Linked DNA regions of Homo sapiens. The protein of the gene in region 3 purifies or fractionates together with the protein of the main gene of each other region. This does not show direct contact. Each region holds a gene or a part of one and is shown on either strand. Other genes may lie near its edges. The genes, in order: FIRRM, ZER1 and MGARP.

Evidence for each region.
Region 1: the proteins of MGARP (region 3) and FIRRM purify together in Homo sapiens (co-immunoprecipitation; 2 studies listed by BioGRID and IntAct, with this or other methods). This does not show direct contact.
Region 2: the proteins of MGARP (region 3) and ZER1 purify together in Homo sapiens (co-immunoprecipitation; 2 studies listed by BioGRID and IntAct, with this or other methods). This does not show direct contact.

The regions. Positions count from the first base shown.
Region 1 is NC_000001.11:169,804,976-169,808,728, forward strand, and holds part of FIRRM (FIGNL1-interacting regulator of recombination and mitosis), read left to right. Parts: intron 1-1,028; coding exon 1,029-1,113; intron 1,114-2,815; coding exon 2,816-2,954; intron 2,955-3,753. UniProt on the Homo sapiens protein: Regulates PLK1 kinase activity at kinetochores and promotes faithful chromosome segregation in prometaphase by bridging kinase and phosphatase activities.
Region 2 is NC_000009.12:128,751,243-128,754,995, reverse strand, and holds part of ZER1 (protein zer-1 homolog), read left to right. Parts: intron 1-1,036; coding exon 1,037-1,187; intron 1,188-1,395; coding exon 1,396-1,832; intron 1,833-2,146; coding exon 2,147-2,323; intron 2,324-3,468; coding exon 3,469-3,583; intron 3,584-3,727; coding exon 3,728-3,753. UniProt on the Homo sapiens protein: Serves as substrate adapter subunit in the E3 ubiquitin ligase complex ZYG11B-CUL2-Elongin BC. Acts to target substrates bearing N-terminal degrons for proteasomal degradation with the first four residues of substrates being the key recognition elements.
Region 3 is NC_000004.12:139,273,543-139,277,295, forward strand, and holds part of MGARP (protein MGARP), read right to left. Parts: intron 1,851-3,753; coding exon 1,747-1,850; intron 1-1,746. UniProt on the Homo sapiens protein: Plays a role in the trafficking of mitochondria along microtubules. Regulates the kinesin-mediated axonal transport of mitochondria to nerve terminals along microtubules during hypoxia.

The DNA.
Region 1 (3,753 bases), on a different chromosome or scaffold from region 3:
CCCAGCCAATACTAGTTTATTTTTAAAGAATTGCTGGTCGTAACACACTTCATTGATTTTATCACTCATTAATGGATTATGAACAAGAGTTTGAAAAACAATATAAAGGCAAAGTTTGCATTCAAAACTTTGGTATAAAGAGAGTAAGTTGGTTTTGTGCAGTGTATCAGGCACCTGTTGCTCTGCAACACACCACCTCAAAATCTATTTATTCACTATTTATTTATTCATGATTCTGTGAGTCTGCAGTTTAGGGTGGGATGTCCTGAGACAACTTTCTCTGATCCACCTGGGGCACTAGCTCACCCATGTGACTTCAGTGACTTCATTCACATCTGGCTGTTGGCAGAGGCAGAAGTACTTGAGAAAGCCATGTGCATCATCCAGCAGGTTCACCCTATCTCAGATACCTGATGCCAGTGGTTTCAGGGTTTCTAAGAGTAGCAAAAGTGTGAGCAGGTCGCTGTGTGCTAGCACTTTTCAAGTTTCTGCTTGCCTTAATTTTATTATTGTCCCCCGGGCCACAGCAGGTCATAGCGTTTAGCCCAGAGTCATTGTAGAAAAGTGTGGATTCACAAAGGGCAGTCATTGTGGCCATTTTTATAAATAATCTACCACAGACTGAGTAAAAGCCTTGCATGAATACCATGGATATTAATTTGAATTCTTCCTTTTTAGATTTTCTTTCCTTAGCAATTTGTTTTGTCATTTTGGATTAGAATTATATCTGTAGAATATTTCAGTTATAATAGGGTACAACTTTTATTCCACTGAACATCTTTAGTTTTATTTAGGTCATCTGGTAGGTATAAACTTCAGAAGTTAATATTCAATATTTATAAAAACCATTAACAAGTGTGACACTTAAATAGTTTAAATAATTCTTTTGACACAACTGTTTCCAAGTTGTGTTACGTATTTTAATTCAATCAAATGTTGAAATTGTTCAGTAGATAGTTTTAATTATAGGAGAAACTCACCCCCATGACATTTGGATGTCTTAAAAGTTCTGTTATCTTTCTTTGCAGTTATTCATTCTTTATTGGATATCTGCTCTGTTATTTCCAGTATGGACCATGCATTTCATGCCAATACTTGGAAGTTTATAATTAAGTAAGTTTGTTTGTTATTTTTTACTTTTTAGAAAATGTTTTCCATATTCCCCAATCTTAATTATTCATGATTCTTTAGATTGCATTTAAAACATTTTGTGTGAATTTAATGTTCACTGACACTGCTGTCTGATAATCCAGATATTCTACATGTAGCTCTCAAGCCAAATTGGACTTCTTTACCCTGTGGCCTCTAAAATTAAAAAAAATGTTCTTCCTAGTTAGCTAGTACTTCAGAAATAATGGGCCATGGGCCAGACTAGAACTTAACCACTTTTCTTCTGCTACTGTTGTTTAACCAGCTATCAAGTATCCTATTTCTAGGATTAGATAAATTGATAACTATAATTAAAACTGAATATAATCTTTTCATTAGGTACTTTTAAGTTGTTCACACTTAATTCCATTTGTACAGTAATTTTAACTTTCTGAAACTGAAGCATTTTAAAGGGTCACCAGGGATAGTGCCTGTAGCATTCATCAGATTCTTAGGGGTGAGAGGAGATGTGGTTGAGATGTAAAAATGGTTAAGAATATCTACTTTATACACATACATAAAACATTAAAGGTCAGTGTATTTTCAGGTCTTAGGTACTTTTCTTGTACTACCAGGACATTAAGTTGCCATTCAGTGGTTAAGAGTGTTGCCTGGGAGCTGTATCACATGTGCTTAAATCCATTCTTGAAATCATTTACTCCTTCTGAGCCCTTGGGCTATTTGGTTAATTTCTCTGAACGTTAGTTTGCTCATCTGAAAATGGAAATAATAATAGCAACTTCTTGACAGGGTTATAGTGAGAATTGAGTTCATCACTGTGAAATGCTTAGAAATGTGCATGACACATAGTTAATACTCAAGGAATTAGCCACATCACTATCATCATCACTGATTATCTTCCACTCTTACCCTCTTCCAGTTCATTTTCTGCCCAGCAGAATGATCTTTTAAAAAGTAAATCAGATCATGTTACTCTATTGCTTGAAGTCTATCCCATTTGATTAAGAATAACAACCTAATCCTCTGTGGATGCTGCCTCCTTCACCAGCCTGTCTCATGCTGCTCTCCCTACTCTTAGTTCCTCAAACATACCAAACTCTCCTGTCCCAGAGTCTTTTCGTGGTTTTTCCATCTGCCTAGGATGCTTCTCTCTCCTATTTTGTGTACCTTGCTAACTCCTGCTTACTGTCTTTCAGTTCTCAGCTTAAGAGTTATATCTTCATGATAACATTCTTTGATATCCTTACCCTAAGATTAAGTTAGATTGATATCCTTACCCTAAGAATAAGTTAGATTAGGTCTCTCTATTGTAGCACCTTAGACTCTGTCATTTGACAAATCACAGCCCTAATTAATTATTCTTAAAATTATTTAACATTCTCTCTCATGCTAGACCACAAGTTTCATGCAGGTAAGGCGGAGATTGTGTCCATTTGTTTGACCCCTTTGTCTCCAGGGCCTGGTAGAATGCCTCATACATAGTAAGAATTCAATTAATATTTTACACAGAGAAAAAATTAGCAACTTATTTAAACAAATATAACTGCTTCAGAGGTAAACTGGGCACATCTTAGTTATATTATGTGATATATGATGCTTTTTGATTGTTTTTTTAAATGTTCTACAAGGTAGATATTGTTAGAGGTCCTAAGTTACTTGATGTGTTACTTGTGGTGATTGTATTCTTTTCTTTTTATTCATTTAGGCAGAGCCTTAAGCACCAGTCCATAATAAAAAGCCAGTTGAAACACAAAGATATAATTACTAGCTTGTGTGAAGACATTCTTTTCTCCTTCCATTCTTGTTTACAGTTAGCTGAGCAGATGACACAGTCAGATGCACAGGTAAAATTTGGGCTAATAGCATTTTAAACAGCAACTCTTATTTTCTTTGGCAGTTAGTAAATCTCATTTGAATGTCTGGGTCAGTCTATTTAAGAGGATTTTAATTTATTTCATTTGGGTGTTTTTTTTTGATCTGTGGGATTATTTATATCCCATAATTACTTTTCACCCAGAGCATTGTATTAGATTCCTAACTGCTGTCATTGCCTCTGGGGTCTGCCTGGCTCCCTCTTTGCTTGGTAACTGGTTGGTCACAGCATTCTTCTCAGAATCCTTTCATTCTTTTCTGCATGAGAACAAAAATTCTTTTGTTCATATTTGTATAAGATCTGATATAGCTGCAATCAATCTTGCATTTTTTCTTCACCAACGCATTGCGACCTTTAGGGATACAAGTATGTTTGTGCATGTATATGTATGTATCAGTCTTTTAAATTTGATATAGTCATACATTTGTTTTTATTTTGAAAAGTTAGAGTGTTGAATTGGTATCCCATTTATGAAACATTATATTCTAAAAATTTGTAGTACGATTATTGGGAATTATAACTCATTTTCCTGTAACACTGTTATACATAGTACCTTTTGCTTTCAGACTAGCCCTCAATTTTATTTAACTATAGTAGTCCTAAATTATAAGATTAATAGTACTCAGGACCTAACAGTTATATGTCATTTGTTTTTTTTTTTTTTGAGATGGCGTCTCACTCTGTCACCCAAGCTGGAGTGCAGTGGTATGACCTTGGCTCACTGCAGCCTCTGCCTCACGGGTTCAAGGGATCGTTCTGCCTTAGCCTCC
Region 2 (3,753 bases), on a different chromosome or scaffold from region 3:
TGGCCACATATGCATGTACATGCCGGTGCCAGAATAACGGATCCATGATCAGGGAGTGAATCATCCAGAAAATCTGAATGGCCCTCCGAGGGCCTCCCCACTCCTAGGGGCTCCTAGAAGCATGCTATGCAGTCACTGAATGCTGGGAGTTCAATCTACAGGCCCAGATGGTGGCCAGGCATGGTGGCTCACACGTGTAATTCCAGCATTTTGGGAAGCCAAGACAGGAGGATCACTTGAGACCAGAAATTCAAGATCAGCCTGGGTGACATAGCGAGACCTTGTCTCTACCAAAAAAAAAAAAAGAAAAAGATTCCCAGAAGGGAAATTATTAGACAGCTGCATAGGAAACTAGAAGCCTGTGTGGGCCTGAGGACAGAGGTGGACCTGTAATAACGTCCTGAGCATTTACCGTGGGTCAGGCTTTAGGTTGGACACTTTGCAGGCCATAGTTATATCCACTTTACAGATGAAGAAACTGAGGTCTGGGAAAGTTCATTTACTTGTGTGAAGTTGCCCAGGTAGGAAGCAGCCAAGCCAAGATTTAGAGTCTAAAGCGTTTGAATCCAAAGCATTTCCCAGCAGACCAGGATTCTTGCATGAGCTGATGTCTCAACAGGGCTTCATTAAGGGCTTGTCCTGTACCCAGCTGGGAACTCTGAACTACTTGGCTTAGTTTGCCTGTTTAAAAGGGTCGCAGGAGGGGCTTAAAGAAGGTGACGAGAGTGGCCATGCCAGTGGGGCTGCTGCCCCTGCAGTGTGCGTGCGTGGAGGCTGTGTGACAGGCATGTGCACTGGGAGAGATGGCGCCTGCATCACCTAGAAGGTCTCCCAGAGAGCTGCCTTTAGATTCCTGGTTCCTGGGCACCCTTAATCTTACTGGTAGTTTAGTCAGGATCTGACCAGATACTCTTAGGAGAAGGAGGTTGCTACTTGGGGTGATCCAAGAAAGCTTCAGGGGGAGGAGGGCTTGGCTTTGAAGCGAGGATGAGAGTCCCTGTGGCCCTCTCCTGAGCCAGGCTTTTTTCTCTCCCAGGTATGTGGAGCTGGTGAACGCTGCCTGTAACTTCGAGCCACACGAGAGCTTCTTCAGCCTCTTTTCGGACCCCCGCAGCACCCGCCTCACGCGGATCCACCTCCGTGAGGACCTGGTGCAGGACCAGGACCTGGAGGCCATCCGCAAGCAGGTGAGACCTGCCCCGCCACAGCGCCAGGAGGGCCCACACCAAGCAGGGGCCAGGCTGCTCGCCTCCAGCCCAGCCATCCCCAGCCCAGCCAGTGTGCACCGTGACTGTGCACATCCCCCTTTCCAACCCACCTGTAGCCCAGGGCAAGGCCTGGGGCCGGGGGAAGGGGCAAGGGTGGTGATGATGATGGAGCTGTGCCCACTCCCAGGACCTGGTGGAGCTGTACCTGACTAACTGCGAGAAGCTGTCCGCCAAGAGCCTGCAGACACTGAGGAGCTTCAGCCACACCCTGGTGTCCTTGAGCCTCTTCGGCTGTACAAACATTTTCTATGAGGAGGAGAACCCAGGGGGCTGTGAAGATGAGTACCTCGTCAACCCCACCTGCCAGGTGCTGGTTAAGGATTTCACCTTCGAGGGCTTCAGCCGCCTCCGCTTCCTCAACTTGGGCCGCATGATTGATTGGGTCCCTGTGGAGTCCCTGCTGCGGCCGCTTAACTCCCTGGCTGCCTTGGACCTCTCAGGCATTCAGACGAGCGACGCCGCCTTCCTCACCCAGTGGAAAGACAGCCTGGTGTCCCTCGTCCTCTACAACATGGACCTGTCCGACGACCACATCCGGGTCATCGTGCAGCTGCACAAGCTGCGGTGAGCTCCTGGCCCAGAGCTCACCAGGGTGGGGTTTGGGGGGCAGGTGGGGAGGAGTAGAGGTGGGTGTTGTCACGCCCTCAGGGTTCAGGAGCGCTTGGCTAGGCAGAGGGTGGGGATGAAGACACAGTCCCATTCCTTAAACCCAGTGTTTCAGCTGGATTGGGGCTGTTTGGGGTTTCTTCCCAGAATGCCCTGGGGAAGTTGTGGCAGGAATGGGCCCTCCCCTGCTACAGACTAAAGGAGCTGGGATCTGCAAGGCAGCCCCACCCTGTACCCAGCTCCTAACCTGCACCCCCTACCCCAATCTTCAGACACCTGGACATCTCCCGAGACCGCCTCTCCAGCTACTACAAGTTCAAGCTGACTCGGGAGGTGCTGAGCCTCTTTGTGCAGAAGCTGGGGAACCTAATGTCCCTGGACATCTCTGGCCACATGATCCTAGAGAACTGCAGCATCTCCAAGATGGAAGAGGAAGCGGGGCAGACCAGGTGGGGCCCCAGCCTCCATGGCTACTGGTAGGGTGTCATTCAACAGGCATTTAGGCTGGCGCAGTGGCTCACGCCTGTAATCCCAGCACTTTGGGAAGCCAAGATGGGCGGATCACTTGAGGCCAGGAGTTAGAGACCAGCCTGGCCAACATGGTGAAACCCCATTTCTACTAAAAATACAAAATTTAGCTGGACATGGTGGCAGACACCTGTAGTCCCAGCTACTTGGGAGGCTAAGGTATGAGAATTGAAGCCGGGAGGCGGAGCCTGCAGTGAGCTGAGATCGCGCCACTGCACTCCAGCCTAGGCAACAAAGTGGGACTTTGTCTCAAAAAAAAAAAAAAAGAAAGTATTTGCCAAGTACCCCTCTGCCAAGTGCTGTGCTGGGTGCTAGAGATAAAGAAACAAATCAGGTCCTGCCCTCTTGGAGGCTGTGTGAGCTGGTGGGGACAATCAAGTCATTACAAGGGCTATGGTAGGGGCAATCCAGGGCCCCGGTGTGGCCTGAGGATCAGGAAGGAAGGAGGAGGAGGGACGCATCCTGGCTGTCCTGAAAGCTCATTCTGCCTCTGCCAGAGGAAGCGTGTTCTAGCAGAGGGAACAGCACCTGCAAAGGCCAGTAGGTGAGAGCATGAGGAGCGACAGGGGAACTACCCAACACTCAGCCTGACCAGAGCACAGTGCCATGGGGGGAAGAGGCAAGGCTGGCAGTGTCTGCCACCTATGGAGTATTGCTGGACATAGGTCGGTTCTTGGATTGGTTGGTTGAGAAGTTTGACCAAACCCTACCAGCTGTAACTGGCCACCCATAAGCCCTGGCCCCAGCCTGCTTTAATGGTGTTCAGTTGAGCTTGTCCCTTTGTGATTGTTGGTGAGACCTAAAGGTGCCATGTCCTTACTAGAATGGCAGGTGGTTTCTAAAGGTGGCTGCATTGCCCATCCTATGTGTTCCCCTACTATGTGGCTTTGCCATGCTTCCATCAGGAGGTGGTGCTTATGTCCCCTACCATTAAAAACAAAAGGAGTAGGGGATGAGGTTGGAGGGCCTAGAAGAGAAAGCAAGGAAATGCCTCACCACCCCCAGTGGGGAGGCCCAGCTCAGGCCTGGGTCCCAAGCCACTGACACCGGCACCCTCTTTCCCCAGCATTGAGCCTTCCAAGAGCAGCATCATACCTTTCCGGGCTCTGAAGAGGCCGCTGCAGTTCCTCGGGCTCTTTGAGAACTCTCTGTGCCGCCTCACGCACATTCCAGCCTACAAAGTGAGCAGTGGAAGTGGGATGGGTCTGGGCCAGGGAGCCTTGGGAGAGAGAAGGAGCTGGATTCTGGGGCTGGAGACTGAGCTGGGATCTGGCATCCCAGCCCTTGGCCTCTGCTGGGTTGTTCTGAGCGTGTCCCACCCGCAGGTAAGTGGTGACAAAAACGAAGAGCA
Region 3 (3,753 bases):
CTGGCTCTCTCACCCAGCCTGGAGTGCAGTGGCACAATCTCAGCTCACTGCGACCTCCACCTCCTGGGTTCAAGTGATTCTCCTGCCTCAGCCTCCTGAGTAGCTATGATTACAGGCACCTGCCACCATGCCTGGCTCATTTTTGTATTTTAGCACAGATGAGGCTTCACCATGTTGGCCAGGCTGGTCTTGAACTCCTGACCTCAGGTGATCTGCCCACCTTGACCTCCCAAAGTGCTGAGATTACAGGCGTGAGCCACCATGACTGGCCTACTTTTATTCTTAATAAAGATTATATTTTGATTTAGAAAGTTTATGACAAAATGGTGAATGACTCAAGTCTTAACTTACTTAACTAAAAAATGTCTGTCATTTTAGTCCCAAAATCTCACTATTAAAACCTTTGTCTTACAGGGTTTACCTGGAGGGAATGGACATGGGGACTGGGAAGGAAAATATGCTTTTCACTTTATATATGTCTATGTTGCATTTTTTAGAAACTTATGAACAAATATGAATTTTTCAAATAATAAAACTGTGTGAAAATTTAAAACTAACAAAAATTATGGAGACAGTAAAAAGATTGGGAGGAGAGAGGGAGAAATGAGTAGGTGGAGTAGAGGGATTTTTAGGGTGATGAAACGACTCTGTATGATACTATAATTTATTCTGGATGATATTGTAATATATTTGTAAAAACAGAACATACAACGCAAAGAGTGGATCCTAATGTAAACCCTGGACTTTAGTTAATAATAATATATCAATATTGGCTTGTCAGTTTTAACAAATGTTCCACATCAGTGCAAGATTTTAATAGGGGAAAGGAGGAGGGGGTGTGAGGGGTTATATGGAAGTTTCTGTACTTTCTGCTCATTATTTTGTAAACCTAAAACTGCTCTAAAAAAAGATCTATTAATTTTTTTAATAGTTATATTAATTTTTTTAAATTTTTTTTGGAAACAGAGTCTCACTCTGTTGCCCACACTGGAGTGCCATGATGTGATCTTGGCTCACTGCAACCTCAGCCTCCTAGGTTCAAGAGATTCTCTTGCTTCAGCCTCCCAAGTAGCTGGGATTACAGGCACACACCACCATGCTGGCTAATTTCTGCATTTTTAGTAGAGATGGGGTTTCCTCATGTTGGCCAGGCAGGCCTCGAACTCCTGACCTTAGGTGATCCACCTGCCTCAGCCTCCCAAAGTGCTGGGATTACAGGCGTGAGCCACTGCACCCAGCTCCTATATTAATTTTTAAGTTAATCTTTCAAAATAATTCTTTTAAAATGTTAATAATAGTGCCTACCTTGTAGACTTGTTGTAATTATTAAATGATCCAGGAGTCTGGCATATGATAAACACTCAAGTATCAGCTATCACTATTAGCATTTATAATAAAATTATTTTTACTGAAAATCATCCATATTAATGGTATTAAGAAATGCTGACTTTACAAATACAAAAATCTTCATAATTTAGAAAGCTGAGGTTCGAATGAAATAAAACTTAAAAATAAACTAAAAAAGAAAAACCTTCATAATAGTCTAGCTAATATATTCTTATGAAAACCCTGTATTTCTAATGATTGCCACCTATTTTTCAGATGTGTATGCTTAATGACACTTAAATCTATTGCTATGTTGTATATTTAATTAATCTCATGTCCTGATCTTGACGTTGCTTTGAGCTTTACCATGAGTTGTAAAATACATGAATTCTTGAGCACTGTGGTTATATAATCACTTACATAATATCCACCAGCACTGACTGTGACGCCTACAACCAGATAATAAATCATATTTGATCCAGATGATCCAGGGAATCTGTTAGATGACATCCGGCGCAGAGATGCTAGGAAAAAAATGTTTAAACACAGTTAGCTTCACTAGTTGAGCAAAACTATTTTAAATAATTACATCTTTCAAAATTTTTCTACTCAGTGAACCTAGAATCTATTAACATCAAGTGATTTTAGCTTAAGGGAATACAGTATTACGAGGCTGGGTAATAATTCCACTTGACAGTCTCCCAATCTAATTTGATAAACACTCATGAAACCTGTCATCTTGATGCTGAGCATCATGCCTTCTTGGAAGGGGTGCAGGTGTGGGTAAGGAGAAATGACAAAAGCACTAAAAAATTTTAACAGCCAAATGAAGTGCACATTAGCAAGAGAAAGCCATGTACTATATGTACTCCACTACAGGATTCAGTGAAAATATTATTTTTTAAAAAATGAATTCAGTATGTTTATACCTAAAATGTAATACAATTTGTATTTATATGTTAAATCAAGCATTTATGTTGAAATCCATCATATTTCTATAAATCTATAATACACATGTAGGTATAGAAAGAAATCTCAATTTTTCTCTTATAAAGCAAATATGGGCAGATAAAACGTTTTTAAGCCAAATGTTGCAGAAAGGTTGTATCTGAAATAGAAGTACAATTCTGTATAAACTAATAGAAACAGATAAAGGTACTATATTATTATATTTAAACATTTATTTTGTAGTACTAACATTTGCATATCCTATAATGCCCTGGAATTGAAATTTTTACAATAAACTTAAAGTCGGAAGGAGCTTAAAGTATATACAACTCAAATTCTTTATTTTAAAAATAAAGACATAAACACATTTATGTATTCTTTCAACTAACACAGCTGAGCATCTACTACGTATTTGGAATTGTTAGAAGCATTAAGAATATAACCGTGAACAAGACAGATAAGGTCCCTAGTCTCAAGCCATTCACAGTCTAGAAGGAGGGTATGAACATACAAATAATTGTGATACAGTATGACAAATGTAATAAGTGTTAAGCCAAGCTACAGGCAGAGTAAAACTCAACTAGCTGGCCAAGGTAGTTGTCATAATAGAAGAGACCTGAGTTTTGAAGGAAAATAAGGGAAAGAGGAATGGCACTGGAGGCAGAAGGTGTAACGTATAAAAGCATGAGAGATTCGTGACCCAGAAGGTACAAAGTACAGGATGAATATCCCTTATCTAAAATGCTAGCAGTGGGTGCAGTAGCTTATGCCTGTAATCCCAACATTTTGGGAGGCAGAGGTGGGAGGATCACTTGAGCCCAGGATTTCAAGACCAGCCTGGGCAATGTGGTGAACCCCATCTCTACAAAAAAATTTTATAATATTAGCTGAGAGTGGTGGTATGTGCCTGTAGTCCCAGCTACTTTGGGAGGCTGAGGCAGGAGGATCACTTGAGTCCTGCAGTGAGCTGTGATTGTACCACTGCTCTCCAGCCTGGGCAACAGAGAAAGGTTCTGTTCCAAAAAAATAATTAAAATAAAATAAAATGCTTGGGACCAGAAGTGTTTTGGGTTTTGGATATTCTTTATTTTGGAATATATGCATACACATAATGAGATATCTTGGGGATGGGACTGAAGTCTAAACAAAAAATTCATTTATGTTTCGTATACACCTTACACACATAGCCTGAAGGTAATTTCATACAATATTTTGAATAATTTTGTGCTTGAAACAAAGTTTGTGTTAAGTACTTACATGTGAAATTTTCTACTTGTGGCATCATGTCAGTGCTCAGAAAGTTTCTAATTTTGGAACATTTTGTGTTTTAGATTTTTGGATTAAGCATGTCCAACCTGCAATTTGATGTGGCCTAACATAAAGTATAGGGGTGCAGGGACTAGTGGAAAGCTATGATTTGCACAGGGCGAATCTTAAGGCATGCTTACAAACCTTCATAGTAGCAAAATCACAACGATT